3 linked regions of the Homo sapiens genome follow. The protein of the gene in region 2 interacts with the protein of the main gene of each other region in a biochemical or structural test. Each region holds a gene or a part of one and is shown on either strand. Other genes may lie near its edges. The genes, in order: NOSTRIN, SOS1 and ANXA2.

Region 1 (8,739 bases), about 130 Mb from region 2:
TTTTTATTGATGCTAGTACAGAAGGATTTTTTTTGATTAGTGATGATCCTCACAGTGTTAAAGAAACCATGATATTCCCCTTAAATTTAACACAATGAACTTTGCTGACTGCCTTTACTACGCCAGGCACTGTGCTACTGATATCATGTGAGTTCTGATTCACTGGGGGTGATGTTTCAAAGCACTGCCCCTCTCTGAAGGGATTCCATGTACTTGTTCACCATCTGCGTAGTATTTGGAATCCCTGTGGCAGACTGTCATAGATTACGGGATATGGAACATTAAAGAGCATAGTCTACTCCATCCTTTCCTCCTTTTACTTTACACACAAGGAAACAGAGGTCCAAGAAATGTGGAATGGCATGTTACACATCTCACTGATGCACACTGGGGAGGCTGTGGGCCACGTGACACCCATGCCATATGCAGCCTCCTTCTGTATTTTTGCAGCGAGTCAGATTCTCCTAGGAGCTACGGACCATGGCACCGGCACCATCTGAGTTAGTGACAGTCATTGTCTGATATCCAGGCTAAGCCACCAAGATGGGAAGCTCAGGTTGGCATCTGAGCCAGGTTACCAACCTGAGGAGCAGCCTGGTGCCATTTCAATGGCCGATGACATGCGGGGAGGGGCTGACTGTGTGGCGCCCAGAAGACTTGCTTTGACAGACCCCTTCCTGGATACTGTATGAGTGTGTAAAAAGCAAAAATTTGGCTACAGCTTGTTACTTGTCCTTGATTTCTATGTGATTGTTTGATAGGAAGGTGCTATTAATACTTTCTTATGATTGGATTCTTTCCCTTAGAGATAATTGGATCTTACTTCGCCTTTCTTGCACATGGATTTGAAGATGAGTTCCCTAGACATATTTTTAGGTTTAAGAGCTAAACCTAAACCTTCATAGGCAATGAAACATCAAGGCCCAGAGCCAATTCTTTTCCTTGTCAAAAACAGAACTTTAAAGATATCTTACAGATATCTTTTTCAAATAAGTTCTGACACTCTCAAGATTAATCCTACACAGCATTTAGGCAATCTTATGCCACCCTGGCAACAATTTGAACTCAAACACTGACCTTGCTCTTTGAGGTTGAAAGGCCCAGCTGTCAGTCTATTTTGCCCATTAGAGCTTGATCTAAAAGAGATTTTTAAATTTTTTCGTACCATGAGCCCTTTTTGTAGTCTCATGAAACCTATTTGATTCAGAATAACATTTTTAAGTAGCGTAGGGTTAAAAAGGAAATGAATTATATATTTTTTAGAATGTATTTTTAAAATTATGATATTATGTGCTTTTTTATTAACATACTAAATTACATATCTTAAGTATTACCAACATTTTGAAGTCAGGGTGAATGTAAATATTTCTAGATATGTGCAACAACTGTAATGTTATCATAAAATTTCTGATTTTTATTGGTTACAAAGTCACAGACACTATACAGATATGACTAATAGTATTGGGGCTTGTTGCCTATATTCTGGATTGAATAAAATTCTAAATTTCAGTTAGAAATTAGTACAAATAGAGATTTTTTTTCACTGAAGTTCATGCAACCCACTGAGTTCCATACATGGGTACATTGGTGTGGGCCCGGTTAAGAACAGTAGCTAAGCTAATACTTTATGAACTGTGCTCTGTGCAACTCTAGGGACTCATGGAAGGGGACATTTTGCAGGTGGTTAAAGCTTTGGGTTCTTTTATAAAACTACCTAAATGTTTCATGAGGCACTCATTTGCAATCCATTTCCTTGTCTTATTTTGTTCCCAAACCGCAGATTCATCTTCACATAGCATTGTTCCCCAAGTACAAGCTAAGAATGTGCCAGGAAATCAACTTGAACACTTGATTAAGATGAAACAATTGCAAATAAATAAATGTTCTGTGAGTTTAGAGGGTTTGGAAACCCAGGCTGAAGGGATATCCGCCCTCCCCATGACTCCCGGATACTTTTGGTGGCAATGAGCCCATACAGATGACCTTCAAAGTTTTAGACAAGGACAGGAGTCCTTGGCCCAGCATAGCACAAGGAACTATTCAGCATGCCAGGGAGTGGAGCTTTAAGCAGACACAGAAGTGTGGTTATGGGTTGCCTTGGGGGCTGCTGAAAGAAAACATTTCTCCACGTCTGAAGACTTGACTTTGCTGTCTACAAAAAGGATGTTAGACCTTCAGTTTCTTTTTTATGGATTTATTTCTTCTTCTCTTTTTAAACTTAATTAAAGCTGCCCACCATTTCCCTGTCTTCTGTCCATTGCACCCTTCCCTGGTGTTAATTTTCTTCTTTGGTTACTATTAGTGCCAAGATTTTGCTGCCACTTACCCCATCCCTGTCCTGGCCTGCCGCCCCTATACAAAAACATTGAGGTAGGAGTGTTGAGACAGGAGAGGATTTAACAGTTTAGTCAGGGAGCAACCTCAAGGAGAGAAAAATAAATGATAAAAGACTTCTTAAAAATTATTCACAATTAACAATGGAGAGAACACTGAGATTGAAGTAATTAAAGGGGGAAGTTTCACTCTTAAAAATCTATATATAACCATATCATTGGAATTTGTTTCTACATTAAGCACAAATTATTTCTGTATTTAAAAAAAGGAAAATTAGGCAGAATTGGCTACTATGTTGTCATTATTAAAATTACTAGTCATTTATGAGTTCATCTCATTTAGCTCATCTGATTTTCTGCAATAGTAACTATAGTTCCATTTTTTCCAACCATGTGCTTTTCTTATCCATTGAATAAACAAAAAGGAAATCAATAATCCTCTGCTGATCTTTTTCTTTATGACTTTATCTCAGCGCCCATTTATCTGCCGCCCCACAGTTTGTGTTATCAATACATGAAGGATGACTGCAACCTCCTGCTTATGATGTCACCAATCTTAGCTTTTCAGCCCCATGTGTTGGGATAAAACACTGACCCTCCTTAATTACTTTATTTTCAAAGTAAACATATCCCCCCCTTTATTTTAGTTGCTTCTTATCTCCTAAATTACATCTCTGCTATTGCCGCCGGAGACCTCACAATGTCTTTGGACTTCTGACCAAACTTATATTTTTGGTAGTGCTCCAAACATTACCAAAACGAACAAACATGGAACAAACATGCTGCTAAACCAGTCTGAGAGCCACTGCAGGCCAGGCAGAGTGGGGAGTCTATCCTTCCTCCTGCAGGACTTGTGATCCTTGACTCCAAAAAATGAGGGTGAAAAGGCACAAAAACTCTCCTCCCTCACTTTATTCTCAGAGCCAAAAATTGGCTGCAGACATTCTGTGTGTTTTTGTATCCACACCACACATGATGTTGGCACCATGGGTGTATGTCTTAAGAATGTTTTCCAAACAGCCACCATCTGGATCCAAATATGAGGCTTTACTCTCTCAAAACTTTTTCCAAGAATATGAGAAGGAAAGATGACAATTACCTGCCCTGTCATTTCCTAGAAAAAGCTCTGTTTTTAAACTGAACCAAAGAAAAACCACAAACTTTTGCACCACAGCCAATATCTAAATGTGTTTGGTTTCTGAGTGTCTCAAATTTCTTAAGTTAAAATCCATTAATATACAAATCCACCCTCCACCCTCCTCACACGCAGGCACACAAACCACACTGAGCTACTCACCGGACAATCTGTCAGTGGGTCCCTCATGTTGAAATGTGTCTGGCTTTTGTCCTTTCACCTACGCTCCAGCATTCTGGACACTGTAATCAAGGTTGGGTGTGTCCTGGACTTCCGGGATTCAAAGGGCCTAGAGTACGTCAGTCCTTGTCAAACATTCCAAGGAGGAAGTCCCAGCCCTGGACTTTCATCCCGTTTGTGTCCCGAGAAAGTAAAGAACTGCTCTGGGTCAAGACGGCCAGTGTGAGATAGTGAGAATGACTTCTGTAAACCCTCAGAGGGCAGGATCCTGAGTCCTGAACAGCGTAACATTGAGAGAAGGCAGAGAAGCTGTAACATGTCTCCAACAATTCTTGCGCTTGGTCTGACAGTGCAGGAACACATATCCTCTCAGCCTGCAGTATTAATCATGCTTTTTATTTTCTGTATTGTATGATGCTTTGACCTTTGGGGACCTCATGGACTTGGAGACAGACTGCCTCTCTGAGGGTTAGCTAATTCCTAGAGAGAGCAAACAACTGGCCTGTGAGCACTCCTTTAATATGCAAACCAACAAATCCAGAGCCCAAACCTCCCCACCATCTCTGTTACCCAGTTCTCAAATACCAAGCCCATATTCCCCCACCCCCTAAATCCCACAGGGCCAGACACCAAACAACTAGGAACCTACACCTATAGAACTATAACTATAGAATGTTCAGAAACAGCTATCAGGAGCAAAGCGTACATTAACCACTTCTCTGAGCCTAACTCCACACTCGCTCCAGCCCCAACAGGATCAAGAGGCTAAGCTTTCAATGTAAAGAAAAAATTGCCTAGATCTGGCCTCATTTTTCATCACTCAAAAGGATAGACAGAACAAGAACTCAACCACAGCTTGAGTTCTATTGCATTCCCTGTACCTGTGGTCCCAGTTGCCAATCATTAGATTTCCAATGAATGGCCTATTGATGTACGACAGCCATTTGCTAGACTGTGGACAGTTCTGTTTGACTGGCAGGCAAGGGCAGGCCCCAGTTTGAAAGGAGCTCCATCAACACAGTCCAGTGGAACACTTCAGAGTTTAAAAGCATTCAGTTTTCACCTGACTGGCTGACTCAGCCTCCATTCACCTGCCCCTGGTGTGCAGGCTCCATTCAAAGTCCCTAGAAATAAGCCAGTTGCAGTGGCTCATGCATGTAATCCAAGCACTTTGGGAGGCCGAGCCTAGAGGGTCACTTGAGGCCAGGAGTTTGAGAGCAGCCTGGGCAATATAGCAGGAGATTCCTATCTCTATAATTTTTTTTTTTTAATTAGGATGTGGTGGTATGTGCCTGTAGTCCCAGCTACTCAAGAGGTTGAGGCAGAAGGATTTCTTGGGTCTAGGGGTTCAAAGCTGGGCAATAGAGTGAGACTCTACTTCTAAAAAAAAAAAAAAAAAGCTTCCAGAAACAACGTAGAAGAGTCAGGGGACAATTAAGGAAAAGAACTTGCCTTGCAACAAGAGTGGAGAGGAGGGGTCTTTTCCACACACTTAATGCCCTCCCTCTTTGCTTATCCAAAGAACTTGATCACTGGAGGTTACAACAATCTTGGGTAGCTACCACAGGGCTAGAATTAGACAAAGCAACTCTGTATAATAAAAGAAATTTAGGTAAGGCACAGTGGCACACACCTGTAATCTTAGCACTTTGGGAGGCTGAGATGGGAAGACTGCTTGAGGCCAGGAGTTCGAGACCAGCCTGGTCAACATAGCAACACCCCATCTCTTTTTTTGTTTTTTTTTTAAAAGAAATTTAGAGACAGGATATAGACTGAGGTTAATAACATGTAACTCAAATTCCCACTTGAGGGGGCTTCTCTGCCCTCAGAGATTTTAGATAAACTTGTCCGGAGCCACCATTCCAGGACTTGGGACAGCTCAATGTTTTCTCTGTGATTCCTGCCCCATTTTTCTTGCTGTTCTGTGTTTCATTTCAGTCCCAACTGAGTCCAAACTGAGGAAATTGGCCTCCCTTGCCAGTTTCCATAAGAAGTGCTGTCACACAAAGCCTACTGTGATCTTTGTATACGAATTATAGATTGGTAGGGCACTCCTATCCCCAAACTCCTCATGTGTGCCATTCCCAGTGGGCTGACTAGCTTTCCCTCAGACCTCCTGGACATCTGCTGAATTAAAATCCTTCCATCTTGCTCCTGTCTGCCACTGGGCCGTTGTAAGGGCAGCAGGGCATCCCAGCTGAATCCAGACTGAGAATTAGAACTTGGCTATTTGTTGAGCTTCTCGGAGGAATGTTTGAATGTGCAAAAAGCCTTGATTTTGGAGGTCAGAAATAGGTTGGTATCGTTTATCCTTTGTCACAATAATGCTGTGTAACAAACAGAAACCCAGTGGCTTCAAATGACAGAGACTTTATTTGGTTCACAAATCTGTAGTTTAGCTGGATGGATCTTCAGGTGTCCCCTGACCTCACTCATGTAAAAGCAGGTCATCTACACAGGGCTTGGCAGAGCCATGCATCTGGGCTTTTCTGGGCAGGGGGCTGGCTGGGAGCTAGCTGTTGGCTGAGGCCGTATTTCATCAGCTGGTAGTCTAACCAGGCTCTTCTCAGGGTATGGCAGAGGAGCCACAAGAGTGAGTGGAAGAGCTCGAGGCCTCTGGAGGTACAGCTTAATATGGACATCCCATCATTTCAGCCACATCCAGCTGATCAAAGCCAGTCATGGGCCAGCCCAGATTAAAGGGGTGAGGAGAGCTTCCACTTCATAATAGGAGGAACTTAGTGTCCCATTGCAAAGGGCATAGAGACAGAGAGGGGCAGACAATTGGAGTTAGTTTTCCATTCAATTTACTACAATGGCTGCTTAATATTTGTTCTTGAATGACTAGAGATAAAGCAGCAAGGACAAGGAGCAGGTGGCTGGTATATGTCTTTCTTTCCCTCTCCCCAATCCAGCCTGGGGTGACACGTTTTGAACCTCAGCAGACTGGCGTTAGGAAGAGAAATAAGAGGACCTAAATCATAAAAGACTCTAGACGGATAAGGGCTGTTCTCTCCTCTGACCCCACATTCCACCCTACACATACTCTGCTAAGGAGCACAGCAAAAAGCACCTCTCCTGGATATGGGTTGTGAGGAGGCAGCAGCAGGGAGAACCTGCTAAGTTGTCTTCAGCCACTGAGGCTCAGGTAGGTGAGGCATCTTGATGAGAAGGATAGAGCAGACCACAGTGAGCACATTTGTCCCCGAGCATGTGAGAATTCCTCCAGTCCCCAAAAATGGCCCAAGGGGACTTTGGGAGGAGGAGACTGAGTTCCCATGTGAGTAAGAGGAGCAAAGAATCTTGTAGTTTTGGAATTAATATTAACAACCTCATTTGTACCTACAGGTTGATGAGAATGTGAACCTAAAGGAAAGAACAACTGAGGCCAACTTAATATAAGTAGAGCATTTACTTGGGCCAAGCTTGAGGGCTGCAACCCAAGAGCATAGTTTCAAGTGGCCCTGAGTATACGCTCTGGTTAGCAGCAGGTACAAGTAGGTTTTCAAAGGAAAAGAAGAGGAAGAGGAAGCTCCTGAGTTGTTTGCCAAGAATTTCCATGAAAATAACACAAGCTGTTGATTGGCTCTACACTGTTCTGTGAATCACAAATTCCAGGACCATAAAGATAGCAGATGAGGCAGCTAGTCAGGAACAAGATGCCTTTACATGATTGCTTCTAGGTGTGGGTTCAAGGAGGCAGAGCAAGACTTGAGCCCCATACTCCCCTCTCTGGGCCTGATAAATTTTGCATACCTCATATAGCTCAGACTGCTCTAAGCCATTTTTCTTCTCTCAAGAACTATCTTCTGTCTGTCTGTCTGTCTGTCTATCTATCTATCGATCGATCGATCGATCGAAGCATCTCCTCCAAGAAGGTATGCCATTCACACTTTCTGAAAATTTTAATGCACAAAGAGTCCTTTTGAGTTCTCTGTTCTCAGATTCGTCTCTGGTCCTACATTTCTGACCCGCACTCATACTCTGGCTGCTTTCCAGCCTGGCTTCCGGTTAGATTTACTGTCTGACCTCTCCTATCCTAATCTTCCTGCTTTCTTTCTCAGTCTCTGCTCAGCATGTGCCTTCCTGGTATGGCCTCTCTGCAGAAAGAAAACCTGCAACGGATTCCCTTCCAGGGTCTGGCCTGGAAGCTGCTCTGCTGGACTCCAACTTTGACATTTTGTGCTGCCTCTAAGGGGAGTTAACAACATGAGTACGCATTTATGAAGTATTCACAAACAAATATTGGGTGTTGGTAAGCTAGTAAGAAAAAGGAGCCCAAATGTAATAGAAGCTCATGGCAATTCAAAACTTGCCTTGGAAGTTTCTTTAGTAGCCAAAGCGTGCAAAGAATTGGCAACAGCATGAACATCATCAATTGAGACCTAGTTAAATACTTTATGGTAATATGAGCCCACATTTAAAGGACATACCACGTGTCAGGCACCATTCTAAGTGTTTTACAAATACAATTGGCTCTCCATATCCCTGGGTTCTGCATCTGTAGATTGAAAATAATAATTTTAAAAATAACAATAAAAATACAAATAAGTATTTATGACTATTTATATAACGTTTACATAGCATTAGGTATTATGAGTTACCTAGAGATGATTTAAAGTACATGGGAGGATGTGTGTAGGTTATATGCAAATATGACACTATTTTATATAAGGGACTTGAATATCTTTGGATTTTGATATGAGGGGGTATCCTGAAACCAATGCCCCATGGATACTGCGGGATGACTTATTAACTTATTTAATCATCACAGTTATCATTTGAGGTAGATATGTATTATTTTGATCCTTATAATACCCACAGGGCAACAGAGGCACAAGGTAGAGACAGGGTCTCACCATGTTGCCCAAGCTTGTCTCAAACTCCTGAACTCCAGCGATTCATCTGTCTTGGCCTCCCAAAGTGCTGGGATTACAGAAGTGAACCACCACACCAAGCAACATTAAAAAAAAAAAAAATTTAAGGTTAACACTTATGCTAACTTTAATTTTAAAAAAAGAACTGACAGTTGAGATGATGACATGTTATTTTTGTATCTCTAGGATTTTGCTTATGCTGTCCCTTCCAGTG
Region 2 (5,374 bases):
TTAAAAAAAAAAACTTAAACAGGGATCTTAATATCTTCCTTTGTTTTCCTTTGCTTTACTCTTCTACTTTAGAATATTTTCTTAAAAATCACTCAAAGGACTGTGAGGAAAGGCTGTGGTACCTGACCTTGTTGAAATCAAGGCCCGGCACTGTACTACAGGCCTGTTTACAGATTATTACGGTGAACTGAATGGGTACCGAGGCTTCACCAAAGAGGTACTTTTTTGTTGTTGTTGTTGTTTTAGGAATAATTGTACCAATTTTAAGAGCATTCCCCCCACCTGTCCCCACACACCCAAACAAAATGTGGTGGTGTTGCCTTCAAAAAAGAGAAGTTTTGTGTCATTAACATGACAGAAGAACTTTTTAAAAAAAAATAACTGTCAACTATTCTATTTGCATTTAGGAGACTGTTCATCTATGCTAGATTGTCATTTTCCCTCCTTCTCCCACAGAAGTTTACTGGTAGTCCATGTCATGGCTCGTAGCTATCCCTCTAACCATACCATGGAAATGCAGGCACCCAATGTGAAAAGGAGCACTTGCTGGGCATCACTGACACCGCTCATGTTTTACACATAGTTGAGTAATCAGCATATCTAGAATTATCTTGCATTGCCTAAATCATATGTATATAGTGAATGTTATATAATATACCTGGCAGGTCTGTTTTAATTTAATTGAATAAAGATACAAATACTTTGTTTGGCTGGCATATATTAAATTATTATATGAAGAAAATGGTTGATTCTTATTTCTTTTAGTTGAAAAACACACAAAAACACTAAACATAAAAGCACGTTTTGTGGTACGCCTTGGTTTCTAGTTCTGGATATATGTATTAATCTTAAAGAATGATCTAAAGTCACAGCTTGGCATATAGGAAGATACTTGGTTAGAATAGGATGGGTATCTTTTAAGCAGAACTTTGTAAGTAAGTTTTAAGTTCCTAAGCAACAAGTATACAGTTTGTTAAGGTTTATATTGAACATTCTACCTTGCTTGAGGTTTTCTGCTTTATCAAAACTATTCATAATAGAACATCTACCTGCATCATTACTATCATAATATGGATTATTCATAAAGCGTATGTACTGTTCTTCTGAGTCTAACAAATACTGTGACTGAAATGCATGCACCTTGTTGAAGAGAAAACATTTTATTAATCTCCACTATAATGTCTGTGAAATGTGCAGTATTCCATCCTTAGAGAGTTTATCTGGTTCATCAGCATCTGCATGTATCCTCTGAATAATGAAGCAACATTTCAGCAATTCTGTTAACCACACCATTAGAGACATTTTTAGAAGTGCTGCAACATGGTGGGAACCTAGTACTTTAATAATTTCCTATGATATTTATTAGAGCATAAAATGTACATCACGATAGTACAGTATGTAGTCCTTTAAGACCAGAAGGTATGTTAACTGCACCATCATTAAGCAGTCTATCCTATTTTCTTATTTATTTGTTAGAATTGAATCCTTTCTCAATATCTGTACCATTCCTATGATGGTAGCCATTCTTCTCTTTATAAAATATTTCCTCTTTGAAAAGCGTCCTAAAACATTAATTTCAAATCCCCTCTTGGATGCAAAGTGTCCCTAAGACCATCCATTCAACAGTATTTATGTGAGCCAACTTACTAGAGCCGCTACAACTAATCATGATAGACAGTCCAGAATCTCCCTGGACTTTATACTGGGCCAGCCTCATTGTCCCTAAGATTTCTCTTTTTATGTCTCATGGATTACTTCTCTTTTTAATTGCCCCAGGCACATTCCAAATGAGAACCTGGTAAAAGTCACATTGGACCCCCTTCAGTATGTCTTCGGCTAATGTGTTAGCCTTCAATAAGGTGATAACCCCTTTTCAACCTATCTAGTCTATAAAGAGGAAAAATTCAGATTTGGAGTTCTAATCCTATTTCTCCCAAAGGGAACTATTCTTCTACCCCATGGTTCTAGGAGACCACTTCACTGTGCAACAGTTTTACATGCATTGTGGATGGAGGATATTTTTATTCTGAACTGTTACATTTAGGTAAAAATATTTTCTGCAGTGGTAACTGATTAGAAAAATGCCAATTGGATGCCCTTAGGTGGAGGTGAGAAAATGGCATCCTTGCCTTCTTCTCAATATGAAACATTAACTAGTTGACAAATTTATCCTTGTAGTAATGAAAATCTATTTAATCAGGGACCAGAAATGGCTGAGGAGATAAATGCATCATTACAAAATTCTGCTTTTGAATCCTGGACATTACAAGGGGGTAAATGCAGCATGACTTTTTGTTAACCACATTCCAAAATGTGGAACATTTCTTTTAGAAATGAAAATATTTCAAGGCTGATGTATTTTAAGACTACACATTATCAGGAAACATACATTGAGAGTTCGCTTAATTAAAGGTTGTTGGGCATCAAATTATGTTTAGTAGGTTACTATTCTCTAACAACTCAAGGATGCTTTAATGGATCTGAATTTGACAAAGAGCATGCCACACTAATACTACAGTCAACAACAGCCCAGAGAACAATTACTATGTCAGCTGGAGGCTATATTATGATTCTAAATTCTTAAAGGTTTTTTTCCCTCCATAAATCAAAAATTACCTTATGTAAACCAAAAATTAGTTGGTATTTATGGTCATGATCTTAATTCTCAAGTTTAGCTTAATCTTGTATTTCATTGTTTGTCTTCTAATATGACAGCTTAAATTCAGATTTTTAAGTGACTCAGCAAAATAGGAGGAGTGTCCCAATTTATTAGTGTTGTACATATTGAAGAAAACCTTTTTGTTCCTTCAGATTTAGAAAGAAACAGTTTAACCATTTATTTCTTGGTATTCTGCTGCTGTGAATAGGTTTACTTATTCTTTTAACATATATTGTGTGACTACGCAAGTATAGGTCCTGTTGTATTGCATTAATCTTTACCAGTAACTAAACATCACAAGGTTAATATTGGTTTGGCTGAAAGAATTATGCAGTAAAGTTATTTATAAGGGAACATGATGACTTTATTCAATATTTTTCTTCTTTGAAACATCTCATTACTAACTTTTAAGATTATTTCATAATCCCTTATACATGAGCCAATGAAATATTTTGAGCTCTACTTAAGAAGCATGAAGTCTATATTATAAATCTAAACAACAAAAGCACTTGTAACTTGTTTAGTAAATTCCATGCCTTATTTTCCATTTTTGACACCGTAAAGTGCATTTTCTGTCGACTGTGAGCAAATTTCCCTTTTGCCTTTAATGAAAATAGTGCATTAAGTAGCCAATTGCTGCAGAATTATAAAGCAAATTAGCTAACAGTGGGTCACATTGGACTACCACTCAAAGAAACAAGATGCATAACAGATGATGGAAGGTACATGTGGTGTGGCTTAGGGAGAGCGCACCTGTGCCAGATGCATGCCACTTTCAGTAGCTGCCAAATGTGCCTTTAATTAAGAACATCTCTAATTTTTTTCTTCAGATCAAGTCAGCATTTGGGGTCGGGATTTGGGCAGGGAACTTTGGGGTGCAAATATCTGGTGAAACCACCAGAGAATTTGTTTGTCAAAGTGACATGTATAATTTTAGTTGAGACGTGTTTGTGTATATATGTGTATTTGCCTTTGTTTAGTAGCACGGTTATTTGCTAAAATAATTGTCAAAAAATTGCTCTGTCGGTCGGTCTTTGATGTAAGAACAAAGTGTGGTCTATACATCTAATATGGCCTTTGTACCTAACCATGTTCATAGGTAATCTTTGTACTCTGTGTGCAGCAGTATTTGGTTTGCATTTAAAGTGAAAATAACGGCTGTTATTTTTCTGGCATTACTAAGATAAACTGAAAAATAATAAAGAAAAATGCCTTACATAGCCCACAAGTGTATTATTTTTGCATGTATTTATTTTAGAGGGCAGTATTTTTGAAATCATTAGTGATTCTCATTTAGCTCATATATGCCATATAGAAATATTTTGCATTTTTATTGTGGTCTTTCTTTGGAGGCACTTTTTTCCTGTATCAAGTTATAAAAGGATAAAAGAAGTTCCACATTTCCTCTGTGTCAAATCTGCTGATTGATTGTAGTGAGTGGGAGGCCTCTGGGATGAAAACTAGTAATTTAAAGTGACCTTGAGTGTCACCTGGATGAAGTTTCAGAGTGCTAAGGCATTTGTATTCCATAAAAGAAGTTTTGAGATATCACGTTCCCTGACAGGCAGCTTTTGCTGAGATCTGCTGGAATGAGGTAGCCTGACCTTTAGCAATTCTTTTTCTAGGCTTGGCATGAAAATGTGAGTTTAGGGTTGTAACTAAAGAATGATGCAAATGTACCGTCATTCAGTGTGAACTATAGGATGTAAAAATTGATGAATCCTTAGAGAGCCAATCCCCTGATTTAAAAATTAAGGTAGATGAGGCCTAGAGAAATGAGATGACTTAGCCAATATCATGTGGCAGTCCAAGCATGAATTATCGAGTATATTCTAGGTAATAAATTTAATAGTTATAGGACAATAATGTTTTTGTTAAACTTGATTCTGAATTTTCTCTTGAATTATCACTTATTCTGAGCTTTAACCCAGTGATTTACTTTTTAACTTATTTTAATCCTCTTAGGTCATCGCAGATTAGTCTGTTTGGTACAGTCCATAGTTAAGCCTGCCTTTTTGCTGATAGCTGCACATGGTGTCCAGAGGGAAGGATGGCTTCAATACAGAGTACAATTCCAAAAAAGCAGTTTATGGCCATTCTAACATTTTAGGACTCTTGATTCTTACTGGAGGCAAGAAAAACTGTAGCCCACTTAACAGCTAATTTCTCTACCTCAGTAACTCATCAAGAAAAGGAAGAATCAATGTGATAGGAACAAGCAGGTGCTTTGGAATCATGTCTTTGCAGAAGTTAGTTATTTAATCTGTTTCTCATCAATACAAGGAGGTTAACAGATGTACTGTTTGAGGCTATTATGAGGTTTAAAGGTAATATGTGTAAAGCACATGCCTTTCACAGAGTAGGTGCTTAGTAAATGCTAACTAAAGTTACGAGGGATGCATTGTCAAAGTTTACTGGCTTTTAGGTATCTTCTAAGAGGTTGGTTGCTTATTCTGAAGCCCTCATAATTTGATTCTTTATGATTTCCTTTGCTGTTTATCATCACTTAAATTAGTTCTGAGTGACCTTAGGTTATAAGCATTTGATAAGGGCCCATCTGACTATTCAGCATTCAACAAATATTTATTCTTCAGGTACAATTCTGATATTAGGAATATGGCAATAAACAAAACAGGCAAAAGTACATGTCATCATGGGGTTTTATAATCTAGTGAGGAGATGCAGACAATAAAAAGTAGTAAGCATAATAAATAA
Region 3 (8,371 bases), on a different chromosome or scaffold from region 2:
TCAAAACAGATTTTTTTTTAAGCATAGTTCAGTTAATGTCACTTCAAGCTTTATGGATTTTGGACGGGTATTCAACTGTGATAGCTAATGGAAGAGCTGGCACAGGGTCAAAGCTTCAGCAGTTAAAGCACCTTCCATTGGGCCCAATTACATAGATTACAACAGTGACTGACAGCTCAAAAAGGTCTGTTTCAAGTCCCTAATACCTAGTAATAGATACCAGTAAAGCCACTCGAATCACAACTAAATAGATTCTTGATGAAAATAAGACAAACTGATCTGAAGTGTTGATGGTCAGAAGAAACCTAGGAGAGGCTGACTCATCCCTGCCTCCAAAGGTCCACAGACTCGGTTTTCAGGAGCGCTATTTTTATCAACCAGGATCATGAAATGTTGTCGACATTTTATCATTCTTAATGACGTCTTTTCTGCAGTACAGTCTACTTAGGAAACTCAGACAAGTCCGCTAAAATAAACTGAGCACAGCTTGGGCTAAGCTGAAGAACTAAAGGAAGAAAGAGACTTAACAACAAATCTTACAGCAGCCCTGAGCTATCAAATTCCAGGCTTTGGAGATGCCCAGTGTCCGAAGCACCCTCACTCTTGTGTTCTCTGGGAAAAGGATGACAACTGAACTGTGACATTAGCTCTGGTGACAGGCTTACAGCTCAGACTGTTCATAATTCAGGAACAGTGGCATCAGAGAAAACAGACTCGGAATAAAAAATCAAGACCAATGGTTTCCCTCATCTACAGCGCAGACTTTACCCATGTATATCAGCAGAGGGCAGTGTCGGACTGTTCAAATGCTGCAGACCCACACTAAGAAAAGGGTCCAAATGTGTTGCAGTACAACATACATTAATGTGTGTGCATCTATTGCATTTATATAAAACTTGATGTTGGCCAGGCGCGGTGGCTCACGCCTGTAATCCTAGCACTTTGGGAGGCCAAGGTGGGCAGATCACCTGAGGTCGGGAGTTTGAGACCAGCCTGACCAACATGGAGAAATCCCGTCTCTACTAAAAATACAAAATTAGCTGGGCGTAGTGGCGCATGCCTGTAATCCCAGCTACTCGGGATGCTGAGGCAGGAGAATCTCTTGAACCCGGGAGGCAGAGGTTGCAGTGAACTGAGATCGCGCCATTGCACTCCAGCCTGGGCAACAAGAGCGAAATCCATCTCAAAAAACAAAACAAAACAAAACAAAAAACTTGATATTTTAAGTATGCACAAAGTTCAGGAGGTTTCCAATCTACAGTTTTTACTTAATTTAACCTAAAATTCCAGGTTCAAAAGAACTTTACAAAAGAAAAACATAAAAGATAACGTGCATTGAGACTTCACAGTTACTTTCTCACAGGTACGATTCAGGTACGATTCTTCATCCAGAATTACCCCTTATATGCACTATGATGTTCTGATTCTGCCTGAATTTGAAACAAATGGTACTGACAGAGAGAGTATGGGAGGAAGAAACACCCACGAAAGGATGGGCAGAATTTGCAAGCTTCACTTAACAAAAGCTATGAGTTTTTTTTTCTTGCCTTAATATCACAACATATCTTTTTAAAGGAGGAAGTGTAATCAAGGAAGTAGTTTTCCCAAATGGTATTCCAATTGCCCAGGTGCTGAGTAGTAGCAGCTGGTAACTGACTTCTCAGCATCATGAAATTTCTTTACAGTCTTAAAACAAGTAATTGAAATATTTTTGGTACAAATCCTGAGACATATAACTTCAGTTCATTTTTAAAAAATGGTTCCAAATGAGAATTCAACAAAACTGAAAATCACCAAATTACACTCAGAAAGCTGTAATTCACAAAATTAATAGCAGATTTGACAGAGATGACATCTCACATGCATTTACCTTCATGGAAGCTTTTAGCTCAGAAGCGTCATACTGAGCAGGTGTCTTCAATAGGCCCAAAATCACCGTCTCCAGGTGGCCAGATAAGGCTGACTTCAGTGCTGATGCAAGTTCCTTCAAGATAACAGGCAATCATAAGGAAAATATTTATTTTACTTTAAAACTAGTGAGTAAAACAAAAGTAAGAGGGATCTTTTTGTGAAGCAGGTTGTGAGTCTTTGACCACTCCGGAGTCTTGGGTCAAACGCCCTCAACTGCATTCCCTTCAACAGACCCACATCTCAGAAACATAAACATCAGGCTTTGCTTCAACGAAATTCCTTAAAATCCAAGTTAATTTTGCCGTCTTCCCCGGTCAATAAAAGGAAACTGGAGTCGTATGTGATTCCTAAGAAAGCTGTGAGAGTGCAGGCACTTTGCAATATGCTTGAAAGCAGTAACACTCCGTGGAAGGCAGGACGCTTTCGGAGATCAAGGCCCCTGCTAAGAAGGAGATGTTTGAGCAGACAGCCTCCTGGCAAGCAGATCTTGTGGCCTCCCGATATACTGTAAAAGACGTGGGGGCAGCCATTCCAGCGGCAGCTCCTCAAAGTCACCAGAAGGAACCAGAGGCCGCAACACAGTTGGAAGTGAGGTCATGAAACTTTCCTATGCAAAACACTTCATCTAATACTGAGAAAATATCTCCTTGTCCACACCAAACTCGGACGGTGTTTAATGGAAGTGATAGGAAACTAACACCCCCGAACTGGCCCCCTTGAATTCCCTGCTGCATGTAATTTCTTAAGGGTTGGATCCACTGTCACCATGAACACAAAAATTTGTCAGAGGTCTGGTCAGCACCCATGTATGTAGACAGACACCCCAACTCAATGTGTCTTTTAGCGATGCTTCCTCGAGCTAAACTTCCTACAAATCATGGCTGATGACTGAAGCCTCCTACTGAAATAATGTTCTTCTTTTCGCTTTTTTTTTTTTCTTCTCTCTCTTCTTTCTTTCCTTGCTTTCTAAGAGCACCTGTGGCATCTACAAAGCTTAGCCCCTACAGGTACTTGCAGGCTACGAGAGGTGATTTGCAGCATGCTTCAGAGACAACCATGCTGAATCATTCGTAGATGTCAAAAGTGTTAGAACTGACATGGATCTTAGAAGCCACCTGGCTTTCACCACCCATTTTCTCCTGCTTCCCAATGTCCCGGGAACACACGGCACTTAGGAGGGGACTGTAAAAGCAGTAGCTCCCAATTATAACACCAGTCTCCCAGTTTGGAACTTTGAGGTTAGGTAACTCCAAACTTAGCCTACCCTTGACACTCCCCTCTACCCATTCTCTATTCAAACCTCAAATAGCATTTGGGCACCTACTGACTTCTTCCACTTCTATTCTAAACTCCTTATGGGCGTTCAACTTCCTGTTTCTCACAATGTCCAGCACAGAGCTTTGCATTTAACAAAAACTAAACAAAAACTCCAGAAATGTATGATAAATCAAACATAACCCTTCCCTGTAAGGAGAAGCCTCGCATCTGGCGTCTGCTAGAACATGAAAGAGTCGTAAAAGCAGCTGTCTCTCCCAGCTCCTCTCCACTCTGCCAGCCGGGCCTAGGTTCTTCAAGCTCATCACCTGGGCAGCTGCAGCCCGTATCCCTAAAGAACTCTGCAGCACAAATCTTCCTTATTTCACAAATTTTCTTCTTTATTTCACAAACAGCCGATTGTTTCACTTGAAACTATCTCAAGTAGTTTACATATCTTTTATAAAAGATACATAATTCTCCTTGGCCTAAGGCTGAGAGTCAAGAATTAGTAGGATGATGAGCTGTCCCCAGCACACAGCAAAGCCTGTGAGATCTTGGGACCTCATCATAATTCTGGTAATATCTTCCCTCCTAGAGGGTATGTGGGAGCTTTGTTCTACATATATCTAATCTAAAACCAAGATCTAGGTTTTGGGTGTGGTGGCTTATGACTGTAATCCCAGCAGTTTGGGAGGCTGAGATGAATCATTTGAGTCCACATGGCAGAAGTTGCAGTAAGCCGAATCACACCACTGCAATCAAGCCTGGGTGACAGAGCAAGACCCTGTCACAAAAAAAAAAAAAAAAAAAAAAAAAAAAAGTTTCAGGCTTCTATGTGTGTGTGTACACACCCAAATGTATTCCAAGACCATACTCTGTGACAGCTGAAAGATCAAATTTTTTGCTTGCTATCCAGAGATGAGCCTTCTGCTCCACTGGGAACTTGGCTCTACCAGCTCACAGACCCCTTTGGGAAGCTGCAGAAATAAAACACTCCCCTCTATGCCTCACTACACAAGATTAATACACTTCTAGTGAAAGAAGAATTTTAATGCACTTGAGATGAAAGAAGCCAGATGCTTTCCTATTTATGTCCTTTCCAACCATTTAGAGTGCGGGGGATGGAAGTGTAGCAAGGCTTGACCTGCAACTCCCAGGACCCTGCTGGTCATGTCAATCCCAAGGGCAGAAATATCTCTTCTAGAATCCTTCCAGCTCACCTCCACTGTGGCTACAAGTGAAAGCCATAAGTCAAACGGGAGCTGCAGGAAGCCACACTTACTGCACTGTCCAAGAATAAATCAAAAGCTTTTAATAGCAAGAAGTTAAAAATAAAGCAGCACGTCCTTAAAAATAAAATTTCCTACAACTGACAAAATAAAGGACGAACACGCACTGGTTGTTTCTTAACCACTAGTGGACAAGCAAAGGGAAAAAGCACACAAAGACCCTTTAAATAGTAGGAGCATGGCATGTTGAAGATAGCTTTGCAGACCAAATGAACTAACAACTAAGCCCACTCGTTGCAAAAAGCTTAAGAATTCAAGTGTATATTTTTAAAATGAGAGGAGCTTGTTAGGATCAACACTCAGTGGAGGCTAGTATCCTAAAATTAAATTAGAAACATCTTATCAAGAACCAGCAGAAGTCATAAAGATGAAATGAGTTGCTACATGTACAAAACTGAGCACAGTGCCTGGCCCAAAGTAAGCACTCAATAAATGGTGCCTGTTGTTGTTATTGTTGTTGTTCCCTATTCCTAACTTTCTATTCCCAGAAGCTCTCCCTCCAGGTAGCCTGGGTTGGGGGAGGGTACTGTCCTTACACAGGAGCTCCCAAGCACTCTAAAGCGAGCGTGACCATCTGCGCTCTGCCTCCTCTCAGATCAACGGTGGCATGAGATTCTCACAGAAGCGCGAACCCTACTGTGAACTGCACACGCGAGGGATCTATGTTGTACACTCCTTATGAGAACCTAATGCCTGATGACCTGAGGTGCACGCGCGCGTGCACACACGCACACACACATGTGCAGTGACTCTTACAAGGATTTAAGAAGAAAATCTTAGATATCCAAGGGTCCCACAAGTCTTTTGCGCATGAGAGCCACAATTCATGAAAAGAAAAAGCAATGTCTGAGGAAACAAAAATTCAACAAGAAATGCCCTCCATCCCTGGAATTGCCTGTACCTTTTTGGTCCTTCTCTGGTAGGCGAAGGCAATATCCTGTCTCTGTGCATTGCTGCGGTTGGTCAAAATGTTGACAATGGTGACCTCATCCACACCTATGGAAATACAAGTTGTTAATCGTTACTCAGTATACTCTAGTATTTTGGGCTTACATAGAAGGTGTCAAGCAGACTTTTTCAAACTGAAATTTATATACTGTTTTCCAAACTGAAATACCCAGACACCAAGATTTGTTCTATCTCTTTCGTCAGCATCCTCTACCCAATGTGTACACTCTCTTTCCTTTTTTCTTGAGAGCCTCAAACCTCAAGCTTAAATGGACCTTTTAAATACTTGTGGTTTAAAAACTATTTTATTCATAAATTGGTTTCTGGAATCAACAGTAGGAGGTGCATATGTGGGGCTTTGGCAGTCAGATGGAACAACAGAGATTTAGTAGGATTTTAAATGAAGGTCCCCAAATTGCCATTTAACTCGGGATTTAATAGAGAGTAACTGCAAACTGAATTAATAGAGATAATTATTTATACTTATTGCAGGATTATGGCTATATAAGCAGCTAGGTATAATTTCTATAATTATAAAAACTGTCATGACAAATGAGTCAGATTTAACACGGCAGTTGTATTTTTAATAGCATAATTGATTAACACAATCACACTTATTGAAGACAAAATTGTTTTGTAAGGAAAATAAACGTTCCACTGCCTTTAATCTTCAATAGGCAATTTTAATAATTAATTTTATAACTTTATTAAAAAGAGTAAGTGTTTTAATCTAAATTAAATCTAAATTGGGAGTTTTGAGGTGCCACCAAAATATTTTAGTACCTATTTTAATTGGAACATGTGTATTTACAAAGATAAGCAATGCCTTCTGGTGTCTGCAAGTTTCCAATTTCATATCAGAAATACTCCTAACATGCCATTTAACTTAAGAAAGCACAGTTTGTAAATTCAGAATGTGAAAAGTCTCTCTCCTGACTGATTAATAACTTTGTTTAATGAAAGAAACAGTCTTTGCCATAACTGGATAGGTAACTCTTGGGTGAGAGAGTAGAGTTGCTAAACCTACAAAGTCACTTGCAAACTACAAATGGCTTGGCCTGAAGAAAATCAGAGGAGTCCTGAAGAAACAGAAAGGTCAAAACTGTAACGCTTGAGACAAAGACAAACAGCAGATTGACAGAGGAAGTATTTTGAATTCTCAAGTGTGTTAGATCAAAAAGTATAAAGTTAGAATTTCTGGGTATAAAAATAAATAACTTTTTAAAATGTATATGCTCATTTCAAAGCAAGTCCATACCAATATGCTTGCTATCTTAACTGTAGCATCTATAACTTTAGCTCTCATTTTTAGAGTAGCCAAGGTAAACATAGAAATCCAATTGCTGCTGAGTCTCCCTCTCCCTCTCCCTCTCCCCCTCCCCCTCCCCCTCCCTCTCCCTCCACGGTCTCCCTCTGATGCCGAGCCAAAGCTGGACGGTACTGCTGCCATCTCGGCTCACTGCAACCTCCCTGCCTGATTCTCCTGCCTCAGCCTGCCGAGTGCCTGCGATTGCAGGCGCGCGCCGCCACGCCTGACTGGTTTTCGTTTTTTTTTGGTGGAGACGGGGTTTCGCTGTGTTGGCCGGGCTGGTCTCCAGCTCCTAACCGCGAGTGATCCGCCAGCCTCGGCCTCCCGAGGTGCTGGGATTGCAGATGGAGTCTCGTTCACTCAGTGCTCAATGGTGCCCAGGCTGGAGTGCAGTGGCGTGATCTCGGCTCGCTACAACCACCTCCCAGCCGCCTGCCTTGGCCTCCCAAAGAGCCCAGATTGCAGCCTCTGCCCGGCCGCCACCCCGTCTGGGAAGTGAGGAGCGTCTCTGCCTGGCCGCCCATCGTCTGGGATATGAGGAGCCCCTCTGCCTGGCTGCCCAGTCTGGAAAGTGAGGAGCGCCTCTTCCCCGCCGCCATCCCATCTAGGAAGTGAGGAGCATCTCTGCGCGGCCGCCCATCGTCTGAGATGTGGGGAGCACCTCTGCCCCACCGCCCTGTCTGGGATGTGAGGAGCGCCTCTGCCCGGCCGCGACCCTGTCTGGGAGATGAGGAGCGTCTCTGCCCGGCCGCTCCGTCTGAGAAGTGAGGAAACCCTCTGCCTGGCAACCGCCCCGTCTGAGAAGTGAGGAGCCCCTCCGTCCGGCAACCACCCCGTCTGGGAAGTGAGGAGCGTCTCCGCCCGGCAGCCACCCCGTCCGGGAGGGAGGTGGGGGGGGTCAGCCCCCCGCCCGGCCAGCCGCCCCGTCCGGGAGGTGAGGGGCTCCTCTGCCCGGCCGCCCCTACTGGGAAGTGAGGAGCCCCTCTGCCCGGCCAGCCGCCCCGTCCGGGAGGGAGGCGGGGGGGGGGGGGGTCGGCCAGCCGCCCCGTCCGGGAGGGAGGTGGGGGGGTCAGCCCCCCGCCCGGCCGGCCGCCCCGTCCGGGAGGTGAGGGGCGCCTCTGCCCGGCCGCCCCTACTGGGAAGTGAGGACCCCTCTGCCCGGCCAGCCGCCCCGTCCGGGAGGGAGGTGGGGGGGTCAGCCCCCCGCCCGGCCAGCCGCCCAGTCCGGGAGGGAGGTGGGGGGTCAGCCCCCCGCCCGGCCAGCCGCCCCGTCCGGGAGGGGGGAGGGGGGATCAGCCCCCCGCCTGGCCAGCCGCCCCATCCGGGAGGGAGGTGGGGGGGTCAGCCCCCCGCCCGGCCAGCCGCCCCGTCCGGGAGGGGGGAGGGGGGGTCAGCCCCCCGTCCGGCCAGCCGCCCCGTCCGGGAGGGAGGTGGGGGGGGTCAGCCCCCCGCCCGGCCAGCCGCCCCGTCCGGGAGGGAGGTGGGGGGATCAGCCCCCCGCCCGGCCAGCCGCCCCGTCCGGGAGGTGAGGGGCGCCTCTGCCCGGCCGCCCCTACTGGAAAGTGAGGAGCCCCTCTGCCCGGCCAGCCGCCCGGTCCGGGAGGGAGGCGGGGGGGGGTCGGCCAGCCGCCCCGTCCGGGAGGGAGGTGGGGGGGGG

What was found.
Region 1: the proteins of SOS1 (region 2) and NOSTRIN form a complex in vitro, tested with the Homo sapiens proteins (one study listed by IntAct).
Region 3: the proteins of SOS1 (region 2) and ANXA2 form a complex in vitro, tested with the Homo sapiens proteins (one study listed by BioGRID).

What each region holds. Positions count from the first base shown.
Region 1 is NC_000002.12:168,797,565-168,806,303, reverse strand, and holds the start of NOSTRIN (nostrin), read right to left. Parts: upstream 3,668-8,739; 5' UTR 3,658-3,667; coding exon 3,631-3,657; intron 1-3,630. UniProt on the Homo sapiens protein: Multivalent adapter protein which may decrease NOS3 activity by inducing its translocation away from the plasma membrane.
Region 2 is NC_000002.12:38,980,062-38,985,435, reverse strand, and holds the end of SOS1 (son of sevenless homolog 1), read left to right. Parts: 3' UTR 1-72; coding exon of another isoform or gene 73-126; 3' UTR 127-3,887; downstream 3,888-5,374.
Region 3 is NC_000015.10:60,359,071-60,367,441, forward strand, and holds part of ANXA2 (annexin A2), read right to left. Parts: intron 5,454-8,371; coding exon 5,359-5,453; intron 1,985-5,358; coding exon 1,871-1,984; intron 1-1,870. UniProt on the Homo sapiens protein: Calcium-regulated membrane-binding protein whose affinity for calcium is greatly enhanced by anionic phospholipids. It binds two calcium ions with high affinity. May be involved in heat-stress response.